Homo sapiens: one gene and its partner. The protein of the gene in region 1 binds, or shares a complex with, the protein of each later gene. Each region holds a gene or a part of one and is shown in the gene's direction. Other genes may lie near its edges.

Region 1 (7,276 bases):
ACTTAGGCATATCATTATTTAGATATTAATATTAATAAGCCTAATGTGTATTGGACTTATTAAATGTCACAAAACAGGTAGTTTATTTGCCATGGAAAGAATCTCACTTTATACTATTTAGTGGTTGCATTTGTCATTTTGATTTTTTCCTAGTAATTTGTTCTCTCATATTTTCTTTTTTCTGTTTCTGACAAAGATATCTTTGTACAATGACATCGATGACATTTGAAGCTTAAAAACCTTTTTTTTTTTTTTTTTTGAGGCAGAGTCTCACTCTGTTGCCCAGGCTGGAGTGCAGTGGCGTGATCTCGGCTCACTGCAACCTCCGCCTCCCGGGTTCAAGCGATTCTTCTGCCTCAGCCTCCCGAGTAGCTGGGACTATAAGCGTGCACCGCCATGCCCAGCTAATTTTTGTATTTTTAGTAGAGACAGGTTTTCACCATATTGGCCAGGCTGGTCTCGAACTCCTGACCTTGTGATCTGCCTGCCTCAACCTCCCAAAGTGCTGAGATTACAGGCCTGAGCCACCTCGCCCAGCCAAACCTTTTTTACTTTTTTGTTTGTTTGTTTGTTTGTTTTTAAGAGATGAGGTCTTGCTCTGCTGTCCAGGCTGGAATGTAGTAGTGAGATCATGGCTCACTGCAGCCTCCATCTCCCAGGCTGCTCAAGCAATCCTCCCACCTCAGCCCACCTGAGACTACAGGTGTGTTCCACCATTCCTGGCTAATTTTGTTAGATGAAGTCTTGCTTTGTTGCCTAGGCTGGTCTAGAACTTCTGGGCTCAAGTGATCCTCCTGCCTTGGCCTCCCACAGTGCTGGGATTACAGGTGTGAGCCCCTGCGCCCGGTCTTTTTAAAAACACTTTAAAACAAGAGTCTTCTTTTGGTGTTGCCCTAGACCATACTACTGGTTCCTTACACATTTTGAAAAGGTATTATTCCTTGTCTATTGAAACCTGTGGTTACTGGATCACACTTTAGGAATTTTTCCTTTAATACTTCCCTCAGCTCTTAAGCATTTTGCAGTAGTTGTTTGATAGAGTGCTTTAGAGCTATTCTTCTGGGCATTTGTCTGTGTGTGTTGTTCTTTAAATTATTAACTTTGTTTTGTTTTGGTTTTGTTTTTTGATACAGAGTCTCTGTCGCCCAGGCTGGAGTGCAGTGGCGCTTTGTTTTGGTTTTGTTTTTTGATACAGAGTCTGTCTGTGTCGCCCAGGCTGGAGTGCAGTGGTGTGATCTTGGCTCACTGCAACCTCTGCCTCTTGGGTTCAAGGGATTCTCGTGCCTCAGCCTCCCGAATAGCTGGGACTACAGGCCTGTGCCCCCACGCCTGGCTAATTTTTGTATTTTTAGTAGAGACGGGATTTCGCCGTGTTTGCCAGGCTAGTCTTAAACTCCTGGCCTCAGGTGATGCACCTGCCTCAGCCTCCCAAAGTGCTGGGATCACAGGTGTGAGCCACCGTGCCTGGCAAAATTATTAACTTTTGAAGGCAGATAAACTGCTTTTATATGTTTTATATTTTCTTTAACTCCATAGTACTTAGTGGCGTTGAGTAATTGTTATTCTTTTGTTGTAGGTGACATAAATGTTACAGTTCTTATTGGAAGTAAACAAGTCAGTGAAGGTACAGATAATGGTGATCTCCCTTCTTATGTGTCTGCATTCATAGAAAAGGAAGTTGGAAATGACCTTAAATCTTTAAAGAAACTTGATAAACTCATAGAACAGAGGACAGTAAGTAAAATGCAGTTAGAAGAACAGGTAAGTATTGAAACTCACTGAAATAATTATCAGTGGAATACTTTTAACAATATAATATAAACATAATCTATTATATATAGAATTTTAAAGATATAGAACGTGACAAATAGTCTATTATATACTGTTTAAGAGGATTTAAGAACGTACATTGTATTACCTATTTTACAAATTAGGTAAAAGACAAAGTTCCTACTGATATGGTTTGTCTTCAAAACATAGTGAGACCTAACATTTTACATAGATTTTCATAGAGTGACTTTTTTTTCCTTTCAATCTGTTTCTAGTGAACATACAGTGACTTTTAAATTGCTTTTACAAGCAAATAATTTCATGGCATACAAAAATATATACCATGGTGTAAACACCATCATTTCAATTTTTTTTTTTTTTTTTTTTTTGAGACGGAGTTTTGCTCTTGTTGCCCAGGTTGGAGTACAATGGCGCCATCTTGGCTCACTGCAACCTCTGCCTCCCAGGTTCAAGCAATTCTCCTGCCTTAGCCTCCCATGTAGCTGGGATTACAGGCATGTGTCACCCTGCCCAGCTAATTTTGTATTTTAGGTAGAGATGGGGTTTCATCATGTTGGCAAGGCTGGTCTTGAACTCCTGACCGCAGGTGATCCACCTGCCTTGGCCTCCCATAGTTCCGGGATTACAGATGTGAGCTGCTATACCCGGCCACATTTCAGATTTTAATAAATGTACCCATAGGGAGAAGTATAAAGTGAAAAGAAGTATAACGTAACGGTTATTTCTGTGTGGTTGGTTGACAAGTGATGTATTTAAAAAATATTTTTAGGCCTGGCACGGTGGCTCACACCTGTAATCCCAGCACTTTGGGAGGCCAAGGCAGGTGGATCACCTGAGGTCAGGAGTTTGAGACCAGCCTGACCCACATGGTGAAATCCCGACTCTACTAAAAATACAACAAAAAAAATTAGCCAGGTGTGGTGGCGGGCACCTGTAATCCCAGCTACTCGGGAGGCTGAGGCAGGAGAATCGCTTGAACCCAGGAGGCGGAGTTTGCTGTGAGCTGAGATCATGCCATCGCACTCCAGCCGGGGCAACAAAAGTGACACTCCGTCTCAAAAATATATATTTCTATGTATTTATAGGTTTTTTTTTCTTTTACAATGAACATATCACTTAAAATAATTTTTTAAAAACCCAATGAGTATAAGCTTAAACAAAAAAATAAGTAGGCCCCTCTACTTGGCAATGGTGTGTTTGTCAAAGATAAAACATTTTTTTCTTTTTTTTTGAGACGGAGTCTGACTCTGTCGCCCAGACTGGAGTGCAATGGCGTGATCTCGGCTCACTGCAACCTCTGCCTCCTGGGTTCAAGTGATTCTCCTGCCTCAGCCTCCCGAGTAGCTGGGACTACAGGCACGCGACACCACGCCCAGCTAATTTTGGTATTTTTAGTAGAGACAGGGTTTCACCACTTGGGCCAAGATGGTTTCGATTCCTTGACCTCGTGATCCGCCTGCCTTGGCCTCCCAAAATGCTAGGGTTACAGGCATGAGCCACCACACCCGGCCAAGATAAAACATTTTTATCATATAGCTACTAAATTAGGTTAAGTAAATTCTGTGTGGGTTATTTCCAGGTTTTTGGTCATCGTATATTCTCCTGTCCCCATTACCTTAGGCCTCCACACCTTCCTGTCTTCCCACCACAACTACTGCTAGTCTTCAAGTTTAGCCTGGCTTTGTCTGCCTTTTCACTCCTGCAGGCAGGTTGTTGTGGGCCCAGTTGGAGGAAGTCATGCAGCTGAGTAGATTGATGCCAATCTATGTGTGTGGTCTGCCACCCTGGCTGAGTCTTCAGCCCCACCAGCAGTCCTTCCATGGGAACGTCAGCTCCTCTGCTACTCCCCTCAACTGTTCTTTCAGATTCTGTTTGAGACATCTACCCAACCTGTCCATTCTGCCCTTTCCTTTTCCCTAGCAGAAAAAAATAGAAGCCTAGCATGAATTTAGTAGCATTGAATTCAGTCTGTTGAATAGTCTATCCCACAATCGACAAATTTATGTGCAGTCATTTTTAACCTCTTCATTCAGCAAAGGATCAGTCGAAGGCAGACCTTATACCCCAGGTTCTCTCTGCCACCTCAGTAAACTTGTGTCACTCTTATAATTTTACCCTGTGTTCGTCAACCAGTCCTATCCCTTCAGCATGTGCACATAGACAGGTCTTTTCCATAAAACCTTAACAAAGAAACAAAAAAACCCATGATCTTTTAGCAGGTATTAGTTCTTTCCTTTGATTGTCAGGCTTCAGAAAGTAACCTTTGTTATCTATCTCTACTTTTTGTCATTCATCTTTTACCCACTGTAATCAGGTTTGTTTCCCTAATGACCACAGAAACTTTTACTGAAGTTCCTTATTGAACCTTAAATTCAGCATGTCCAAAACTATACTGATCCATTTTTTAGAGGCTTGTCTGTCTTGGTTAGATAATGGCACCACTATTTGCCTGTCACCCAGACCTGAAGCCTAGGAGTCCTAGATTCCTTCTTATCATCCTCTCATCCTCTATCCCATCACCAAGTCATCTGAGTTCAGCCTCAACATCTCTGGTATCCATCCCATCTTTCCCACTCTTTTTTTTTTTTTTTTTTTTTTGAGTTGGAGTTTCACTCTTGTTGCCCAGGCTGGAGTGCAATGGCACAATCTTGGCTCACTGCAACCTCCACCTCCTGGGTTCGAGTGATTCTCCCGCCTCAGGCTCCCAAGTAGCTGGGATTATAGGCATGTGCCACCACGCTCGGCTAATTTTGTATTTTTGGTAGAGATGGGGTTTCTCCATGTTGGTCAGGTTGGTCTCAAACTCCCAACCTCAGGTGATCTGCCCGAAAGTGGATCTTGGCCTTCCAAAGTGCTGGGATTACAGGCGTGAGTCACTGCTCCCGGCCCATCTTTCCCACTCTTGCTGATACCATGTTAGTTTAGGCAGATTGGGAGCTTTGTAGAAATGCAGAATCTCAGTCTTACTTCAGACTTACTGTATCAGAATCTGTATTACAACAAGATCTTTAGGTGATTAATGTGCCCATTCATTAAATATAGCCTGTCTATTTTATTGCATTAATCCCACTGTTGAAATTATTTGCTTACAACACTCTTATATACCAAAGTGACCTGAAGGACGGATGCTGTGTCTTGTTTATCTGCATATTTCTAGCGCAGTGCCTGGTACAGAATAAGTATCTAATCACTGTTGATTGAAATTATTCTATAATGTTCTTTGTATTTTGCTGATGACTAATATTTGTATATGTTTTCCCACATACTATAAGAAAAATTCACTTAATAAATGCCATTTTCTTTTTTTTTTTTTTTTTGAGATGGAGTCTTCCTCTGTCGCCCAGGCTGGAGTGTGGTGGTGTGATCTCAGCTCACTGCTACCTCTGCCTTCCGGGTTTCAAGTGATTCTCCTGCCTCAGCCTCCTGAATAGCTGGGATTACAGGCATGCGCCACCATCCTCAGCTCATTTTTGTATTTGTATTTATTTTATTTTATTTTTTGAGACAGAGTCTCACTCTGTCGCCCAGGCTGGAGTGCAGTGGAGCGATCTCAGCTCACTGTAACCTCCGCCTCCTGGTTTCACCAATTCTCCTGCCTCAGCCTCTTGAGTAGCTGGGATTACAGGCTCATACTACCACACCCGGCTAGTTTTTGTATTTTTATTAGAGACGGGGTTTCACCATGTTGGCAAGTGTGGTCTCAAACTCCTTACCTCAAGTGATCCACCAGCTTCTGCCTCCCAAAGTGCTAGGATTACAGGCATGAGACACTGTGCCCGGCTGAATTTTTGTATTTTTAGTAGAGACAGGGTTTCACCATGTTGGCTAGGCTGGTCTCGAACTCCTGACCTCCAGTGACCTGCCCTCCTTGGCCTCCCAAAGTGCTGGGATTACAGGTGTGAGCCACTGCACCTGGCCACTAAATGCCCTTTCTAAAGGCATTGCCTGGATATCATCTCATCAAGTCAGTGCTTCTTAGCCTGGCCTTAATTCAGAATCACCTGGGGTATGTTGGCAAAATATAGATGCTCAGCCTGTTAGAATGAGATCTTTGTTTCCTTTTTTTTTTTTTTTTTGATATGGAGTCTCGCTCTGTCACCCAGGCTAGATGGCAGTGGCGCAGTCTCGGCCCACTGCAACCTCTGCCTCCCGGGTTTAAGAAATTCTCTGCCTCAGCCTCCCAAAGTGCTGGGATTACAGGTATGTGCCACCATGCTCAGCTAATTTTTTTGTATTTTTTAGTAGAGACAAGATTTTGCCATCTTGGCCAGGCTGGTCTTGAACTCCTGACCTTGTGATCCACCCACCTTGGCCTCCCAAAGTGCTGGGATTACAGGTGTGAGTCACCGCACCCAGCTTGCATTTTTTTTTTTCTTCTTTGAGGAGTCTTGCTCTGTCACCCAGGCTGGATGGAGTGCGGTGGTGCAGTCTCAGCTCACTGCAACCTCCTCCCGGTTCAAGTGATTCTTGCCTTGGCCTCTCTAGAGCTGGGATTACAAGGTGTGTGCCACCAAACCTGGCTAGTTTTTGTATTTTTAGTAGAGATGGGGTTTCATCATGTTGGCCAGGCTGGTCTTGAACTCCTGACCTCAAATGATCCGCCTGTCTTGGCCTCCCAAACTGCTGGGATTACAGGTGTGAGCCACCGTGCCCGGCCCTTCCTTTGCTTTGAAGGAAAATATTTAGCAGGTAGAGCATGTATTAATAAGTTTTCTCGGCCTGGCACGGTGGCTTATGCCTGTAATCCCAGCACTCTGGGAGGCTGGGGTGGGCGGATCATGAGGTCAGGAGTTCGAGATCAGCCTGACCAACGTGGTGAAACCCCGTCTCTACTAAAAATACAAAAATTAGCCGAGCGTGATGGCACGTGTCTATAATTCCTGCTATTTAGGAGGCTGAGGCAGGAGAATCACTTGACCCCGGGAGGTGGAGGTTGCAGTGAGCTGAGATCACGCCACTGCACTCCAGCCTGGGTGACAGAACGAAACTCTGTCTCAAAAAAATAAAATAAGTTTTCTCTAGCTGGATCCTCTGCTGAGCCTATGGAGGCAGACCTCTAGATGCTTACTGGAGCCAGTGAGTTAAGTCCCTTTCTCTACATGTATGTGTATATGTATGTATGCATATATTTTTTATTTTATTTTTATTTTTTTGTTTCACTTATTGTTTTCAACACAAAGGCATACTTCTTCCTGCTATTTGTGTGTATATAAAACAGCATGTTATGTTTGGATTGATTAGTACAGGATGAAGAAATCAAACCTTTTTTTGAAGGTTTTGATGGATGATTTTCAGTTCTGTTACAAAAAATGTGTATTTTGAAGGGAACGAACTAATAAAAAAGGTTACATACAGCCTGGGCAACATAGTGAGACCTTATTTCTATTTAAAGAAAAAAAAAAAAGAAAAGCCAGGTGTAGTGGTGCATATGTGTAGTCCCAACTACTGGGGAGGTTGAGGTGGGAGGATTGGTTGAGCCCAGGAA
Region 2 (7,307 bases), on another chromosome or scaffold:
GCTGGGTGTGGTGACACGTGCATGTAGTCCCAGCTATTTGGGAGGCTGAGACAAGAGGATCGCTTGCATCCAGGAGGTTGAGGCTACAGTGAGCTGTGTTTGCGCCACTGCACTCCAGCCTGGGTGACACAGCAAGAGCCTGTCTTAAATAAATACGTACATAAATAAATAAGGTAAAATCCTTATTCCAACCCGTGTCTGATATTCTATATTTTAAGGTAAAATAAATAATGCAAACTCCACTGGTAGAAACACCAAGAGAGGGGTGGTTTCAATGCCTAGAAACTCAAACTAGTTGAAGCATAAAAGAGAATGAACTAGATCACTTACCTGGGAAGATGGAATCATACAGGTGTCTCTTGTTTCAAGCATGCTTGTATCAGATGAAGTCTCTACCTCTTTCTCTTCTCAGTTTTTTTCAATGTATTGGTTTCATTCTTTCACTATATAGACAGGCTTTCTCTCTGGAATGAATAAGATGGATGCTAATAACCCCAATATTCTTCAAACTCTGTGACCCAAAAAGGCAAGGAGCCTTTTCCTCCATTTCCACTTAAAAAAAAAAAAAAATCCCAGGGAAGGATTCTCAACCTGATGCTCAAAGTAGCAGGAATGGAGTTCTTTGGGTCAAGGGGGCAGAGTTTGGGGATTGGCGGCCCCACTAGGAATTATCTGACTGAGTGAATGAAGAGCAGCTAGAACAGTCTCCGAAGGAAGCAAAGGGCCTGGGCAGACAAAAATGACCAGTGTCACTACAAGCACGAGGGAAGAAAGAAGAGAATAATGACGAACAGAAGAGTCTTGCTATCCTTGTGAAACGCTCACCACCTCTTCATTAAATTACCCACTCTGCTGTTTAGGATTAGTGTGACAATCATCTCAGTTTGCCCATGACAGCCCTGTTTCATGCTTGTTGTCCTAGCATAACTATTAAAATCATGGCTTTTTCTTTTCAAAAATATCCCAGTTTGGATACTTTGCTATATAGTCACTGTAAATAAGACCAAGTAGCAATTTGGCTTCAGCCACTCAATCTGTTTTAAGTCATCCTATTCCTTTGATTCAGTTGAACTTGATCAGATCTTTGTCTTTTCTTTTCCAACCCGTGTCTGATATTCAACATTTGGAGTTCTTCTTGTGGCATACATATTCTTACCATCTTCTTCCCTTTTATTGGTCACCTCACATTTCTCCCCTTCCAGGAACTCTTCTGGATTTTAACTAGTGGTGCTGAAGGTTTAAGAACCCACTTACCTGCTCAGAGCATCTCTGCTAGTAGAATTTTTCTTCCAGGGATTGCTTCAAGTTAAATGTATACTCCCTCTCCAAATAGCATAGATTCATCCTGTGACACTTCGGTTGTTGTTTCTTCAGAGTAGAAGCTCTCTGCCAGGCATGAGTTTATGTTTTCTGTCCTTTTGTACATGCTATGGTAAGTGGGGTATGGATGAGGATGGATAAAACAATTAACATGGTGTGAGGCTGGGCATGGTGGTGCGTGCCTGTAATCCCTGCACTGTGGGAGGCCGAGGCAGATCACTTGAGCCCAGAAGTCCAAGACCCCCCATCTCTACAAAAAATAATAAAGTTAGCCCAGCATGGTGGCATGCACCTGTGGTCCCAGCAACTCAGGAGGCTGAGGTGGGAGGATTGCTTGAGCCCAGGAAGTAGAGATTTCAGTTAGCTCTCTTTGTGCCACTGCACTCTGGCCTCAGTGAAAGAGTGAGACCCTGTTTCAAAAACAAAAACAAACAAACAAAAATAGTGTGATGATGGTAAAATAAATAAATTCTTCATGGTGTATTTGCAGTGGTCCCCTTTGCACACCAGCTAAGAAGGAAGCATCCTTTGCCAGTTTGACCAGCTATCTCCTGGCCGTGGTTGTACAGATTGAGTGAAAGTGGTGAAGAGAGTGATGAAACAGAAAGCAACCCCAATATCTATCTGAGAAAGGATGAGACAGAGGAATAAAGAGCCAAGGAAACTTGGTGTGGAGAAATAGGTGGGGTTGTACTGAGGTACTGGAGGACTCCAGTAACCAGCCCTCACACCGCATTCCATGTGCATGGTGTTCCTGCCTCTTCATGTTCTACCGCATGCAATGTGGGCGGGGCTCCCCGGAGGTATACAGTTTGTCAGCCTTGTGCGGTAGGGAGAAGACACGTCTGGTGTTCACAATGAGGGGTTTGATTGAAGGGCACAGCTGCTATGCAGAGAAATACTATGGGGAGACAATGTGTAAAAGATTTTCTGGGAAGTCTGTCATTTATTCAACAAATAATATATATTTTGTCCTCTGCTCTATGCCAGGCACTGTTATAAATTCTGGGGATATAGCAGGGATGGATATAGCATTTGCATGCATATAGATAGAGCACCTGGCATGGCTTACCTTTTAGTGAATGGAGACAGATAATAAGCAAATATACTGTATAGCCATTTAAGTGATGACAAGTGTAATGGAAAAAATAATAGAGCAGCTCTGGAAAGCTGGAGTTGGAGAATGGTCATTGCAAATTTAAAAATGAGCAGTCAAGGTAGGCTTCAGAGAGAGACGACATTTGAGCAAAAACTTGAAGGAGATAAGGGAGGAACCAGGTAAACATCTGGTAGAAAGCCTTCCAAGTGGAGGGGACAGGCTTTGCAGAACTCCTGAAGTTGATGTGTGTCTGGTGTGTTCAGAAATAGAGCCAGTGTGGCTGAAGGTAGTAGGGGGAGCAGGAAATGAGGTGTGAGATTTAGGGGAGCAGGCAGATGACGTAGGGCTTTGAGGTCATTAAACTTTGAGAGAAATGGGAGCTGGTTAGAGGCTTCCCAGCAGAGGCTTTTAATTGCATCACCGCCTAATGCATCTTGATGGATATCATGAATATAATTATCTCAAGGGATATTCAGTATTTGTGTTTCTTTTGATGTGAAACAGTGTAATACTTTGTACAGTATATATTCATTCATGTTACAGTAGGCTCTGCTTATAACTGTCCACAAAGAGGTATTTGTTGAATGAATGAATGAATGAACAAATGGGGTTGACCTTTTCGCTCCCTCCATGCGGGTTCTCAACCTATTATTTCAACTTTATTGCCCCTACACCCTTTCTCAACTTGGGTTCTATTCACCCGTCTTGTTGAGTACTAATTAGGAAAAAAAAAAAGGCAGGCTAGTGGGAGCAGGGAAAAACAAAGAGATAAGGCAAATTAGCTATACGTCTGTCTTTCTTCATGGTCCAAAACATATAAACAAAAGGAAGAAACAAATAAGCCATAGGTCTACTTTTCTTTATGGCCCAGGACATATGGCCCTTCTACCCAGATAACGTACTTAACTCACAAACTTCCTGCTTACCTTCAAATGCCTCAATTTCTGAAACACTTCAGCTGACAAAAAAAAAAAAAAAAAAAGAAAGAAAGAAAAAAAAAAAGCAAGTTAACTCCCTGCTACCTGGTGTTATCAATCACTCCAAGTTCCAGTCTATAAAATTCTCAACAAGCCTTTGTTTCCTAGCAATGAGCTCCTCCTCTGCTGAGTCGGCCCGCTGCTCCCTGGCAACGAACTTTCATACTTTCTTTAATCTGTCTTTCTTTATCTACCACTGTCTTGGTAAATTCTTTTACTCCCACACTGAGAAAGTCGTCACTCACTGGCGACACGTTGAAAGAGTTCTTTCAACTCTGTATTTCTGCCTCTGTCTCTGCTCATTCCATTTCCCGCTACTTGAAATGCTTCTCCAGTAGATTAAAATTCTGCCTATTGTTAAAGACGCAGGGACAAGCTCCACGTCCTCCAGGAAATCCCTGCAGACTCTGGCCTTCGTTGCCTTTTCTGAGCTCCTGTAGCATCCTTCCTCTGCTACCTTTCATTGGATAACTTTAGTTGTTTATTTTAAAACCACTGTTTGAACTCTCTCTACGTGTTAGGCAAAGAATATACAAATGAACATTAGCATTTCAGTGGGGTACCTTTACCATTTCTGTTTTATGGAAACTGAGTTATAAGAGAGGCTCAATGACTTGGCCGATCTCATGTAGATTAATGAACAAGGAGTGTATCAGGACCGGGACACAAGTCGTTCCCAAGACAAGCAATAGTCCCTGTCCTTCCTACTCATAAAAGGGTTAACCTAGCATTTCCTTGCCGTGAAACAAAAGCGGCCGCGGATAGAGAAGCTTGTCCTGTGAGGGATTCCGTAGAGACACTCCTCCGCTGCCTGAGTCCTCGGCGAACATGGCGGCCCCCGAGTCAGGGCCGGCTTTGAGTCCAGGCACTGCAGAGGGTGAGGAGGAGACGATTCTCTATGACTTGTTGGTCAACACCGAGTGGCCACCGGAGACTGAAGTACAGGTGAACCAGGCCCATCTACAGCAGCAGCCAGCTTGGCGCGGGCGCTTCGTGGGTAGAGCCACGTAGCAGGAGCCACGTAGGGGAGTGGAGACGGGTGGGTGGGGGACTAGGGCCGGTTGGCTTGTGCGGTCGCCTTGGCAACGGCACCTTGGGCTAGCGGGGGTCTAGGGCGGGGTGGGGTGGTGGTCCCTGAGATTCTTCCTGGGCTCAGAATTCGGTTGTTGGGGGCTGGAACTTCGTGCTCTGGGGAGCGTACGATCCCACTTTGGTTCTCAGTTTCGCTCTCTGTATTGGGAGGAGAGGGGATTGTTAGTGTCGCTCTCTGTATTAGGAGGGGAAGGCACAGCGCTGGACTCGAGGGTCCTTTCTCCTATCTGGACCCTCAGTGGTCCCTTCTCGCGGTCTGGCTAGGGCTAGTCTGGGCCGACGCTCAACTGCGATGGGAGAATTTTCCAGGACCTTACAGTCTGCAGCATCTGCCAGGCTGGTGCAGAGCGCAGAATCTGAGCCTTTACCCATACTGGGGGCTGGATCGCGCCAGGTCTTGTGTGTTTCAATAAAAGAGCATTTAATAAGGGTGTGCGTGTCCGTTCGTCTGTCTCGGTGTCACAGGTGCTGTGCTAGGTGCTAAGGATACAGAGATGAATATGTTTTCGTGGAGCTTCTCGTCTAGAGGGGAGACAGTCCCGTAAACGTTTTTCATAACCTAGCGTTTTATGCGCTATAGTTAGCGATGTGAGCAAAATGCCACGGAAGTGCAGAGTAAAGAGCTGCTGACTGGGATTGGGATCTCCGCTACAGAAGGGTTATAGAGGTTGATAATTTATGGACTGGATCTTGGGATTATCAGTTGTTTGGTAGTGAAGGCCTCCCGGGTCTGTGATGAAGAGTAGGAACCATGGATCCATGTTTATTTTATTTTATTTTTTATTATTATTATTTTTTGGATCCATGTTTATTTAACAGATATTTATTGAGTGCTTAACACGTGCCAGTTACTGTTTTAGACCCAGAGGAAGCAGCCAGATCGAAAAGAACCTTTATTAAAGATTATGTAGTCCAGCCCATGTGAGTTATCTTACATTTTTTCTGAGTGTTTCTTTGCTGGAGAAACGACTCATTTTTCAGCCCAAAGTTTGTATTTTTTTCCTCTGTAGCCTCCTTCCCACTGCAGTTTGTGCTTATCATGAATAATTTATTTTGTAGACGGGTAGAGATCTGCATATATTACTGTTTAATTTCAAGTACTTAGTTTGTCTTAATGTGAATATTTTTTGGGTTATGCAGCTAGGAAGCTGTTGCTGAGGCAGCTGGTTAGATAAGTTTCCACTCCTTAACACTCATTGGTTAATTGCAGTAATGTTTCAGAATGCTTACCATAAATTGATTCCAAAAAAGTAACCACAGAATTAACTTACTTTGAAACCCTTAGCACTTTGTTTTGTGTTTGTGTGTTGGGGGTGGGGGAGTTCAATTGATTTCTGCATTCTATCGATTTCTGCATTCTGTTGATTTCAGCTGTTGAATTATAAGCTCTTGGAGGGCAGACATCTGATTCATCTTTATATCTCTTCCCAGGGCCAAATTGTGTCTTGCATGAATCCAACAATCAATTCATGTTTATTGAGTGAAATAACTTTTCTGTGTTTTTTAAAAAAATCTGTCTACACTTACTGTATGTCCATTGTGCTTTTCTTGACAGCACTTTAGTGCATCTTATGCAGTGCCTAGCGTCATGAACCTACCCACGGTGTGTTCAGTCTATACTTATGGAATGGAATTATTTAATATAGCAATTACGTATCTGTGTATGTTTTGTTAGTAGCATTGTCTGTATAGATACACAACAGATAGTCAATGAATTGGCCTTGGAGATATGACCACTTTTCCTGTGAGCAAAACTTACAGCCTCAATAGAGTATGCTGAACTGGCAACCAGTATGGTCTTTGGCCTTGACTTCTCTTGTCTTTGGATTGGTTTTTGATTTGGAAACAGTTTCCAGCTTCAATCCTTGTTCTTTCCTGCAAGGTTAGTCCTGACATGTGCCTGTAGCTCTGCTATGCTCACTTTTCTCCTATTGTCCCGCGTCCTGTGTCTACTTTTTTTTTTTTTTTTTTTTTTTTTGAGGCAGGGTCTCACTCTGTCACCCAGGCTGGAGTGCAGTGGCATGATCAGGGCTCACTGTAGCTTCGTAGCTTCAACCTCCTGGGTCACCTCAGCTTCCCAAGTAGCTGGGACTATAGGCATGCACCGCCATGCCTGGCCAATTTTTGTATTTTTTGTAGAGATGAGGTTTTGCCACGTTGCTCAGGCAGGTCTGGAGCTCCTGGGCTCAAGCAGTCAGCCCACCTTGGCATCCCAAAGTGCTGAGATTACAGGCGTGAGCCACTGCACCTGAACATCCAGTCTTTAAGTAGTTTTAAGACACTGCTTCCCTGTGCCCAAAACTCTGAGTATTAGTAAATAAAAATAAGTTTACATATTGTATAAGTAATACTGGTCTAATACTACTAGAAGATTCAAATGTAAGTGTTTTTTGTTTTAAATTCCAGCCTAGAGGCAACCAAAAACATGGTGCATCCTTTATCATCACGAAAGCAATTCGAGGTAAATATAGCTTATTTCTCTACAGTAATGATATGGTTAACAGTTAAAATGTGTTCTTTAGACTTCTGATGTGGAGCCTAATAAAAGTAATGTGTGTTATCTGAGTTTAATTATATATATATTTATATATACACACATATGTATGTATATGTATACATTTGTATATTTACGCATGCACGTTTTTAGCTCTAATGCAGCTTAGAGCTAAAGTATATAGCTTTGGTTTAACCATTATGGATGTATTCTAGAACAGGTGTCCTCAATTCCTGGGCCATGGACTGGTACCAGTCTGTGGTCTGTTAGGAAACAGGCTGCATAGCAGGAGGTGAGCGATGGGTGAGTGAGCATTACCACCTGA

What was found.
Region 2: RINT1 (region 1) and NBAS share a complex: the UniProt entries of both Homo sapiens proteins name them as parts of the NRZ complex.

What each region holds. Positions count from the first base shown.
Region 1 is NC_000007.14:105,534,989-105,542,264, forward strand, and holds part of RINT1 (RAD50-interacting protein 1), read left to right. Parts: intron 1-1,576; coding exon 1,577-1,761; intron 1,762-6,738; exon of another isoform or gene 6,739-6,867; intron 6,868-7,276. UniProt on the Homo sapiens protein: Involved in regulation of membrane traffic between the Golgi and the endoplasmic reticulum (ER); the function is proposed to depend on its association in the NRZ complex which is believed to play a role in SNARE assembly at the ER.
Region 2 is NC_000002.12:15,558,222-15,565,528, reverse strand, and holds the start of NBAS (NBAS subunit of NRZ tethering complex), read left to right. Parts: upstream 1-4,194; 5' UTR 4,195-4,224; coding exon 4,225-4,341; intron 4,342-6,894; coding exon 6,895-6,949; intron 6,950-7,307. UniProt on the Homo sapiens protein: Involved in Golgi-to-endoplasmic reticulum (ER) retrograde transport; the function is proposed to depend on its association in the NRZ complex which is believed to play a role in SNARE assembly at the ER. Required for normal embryonic development.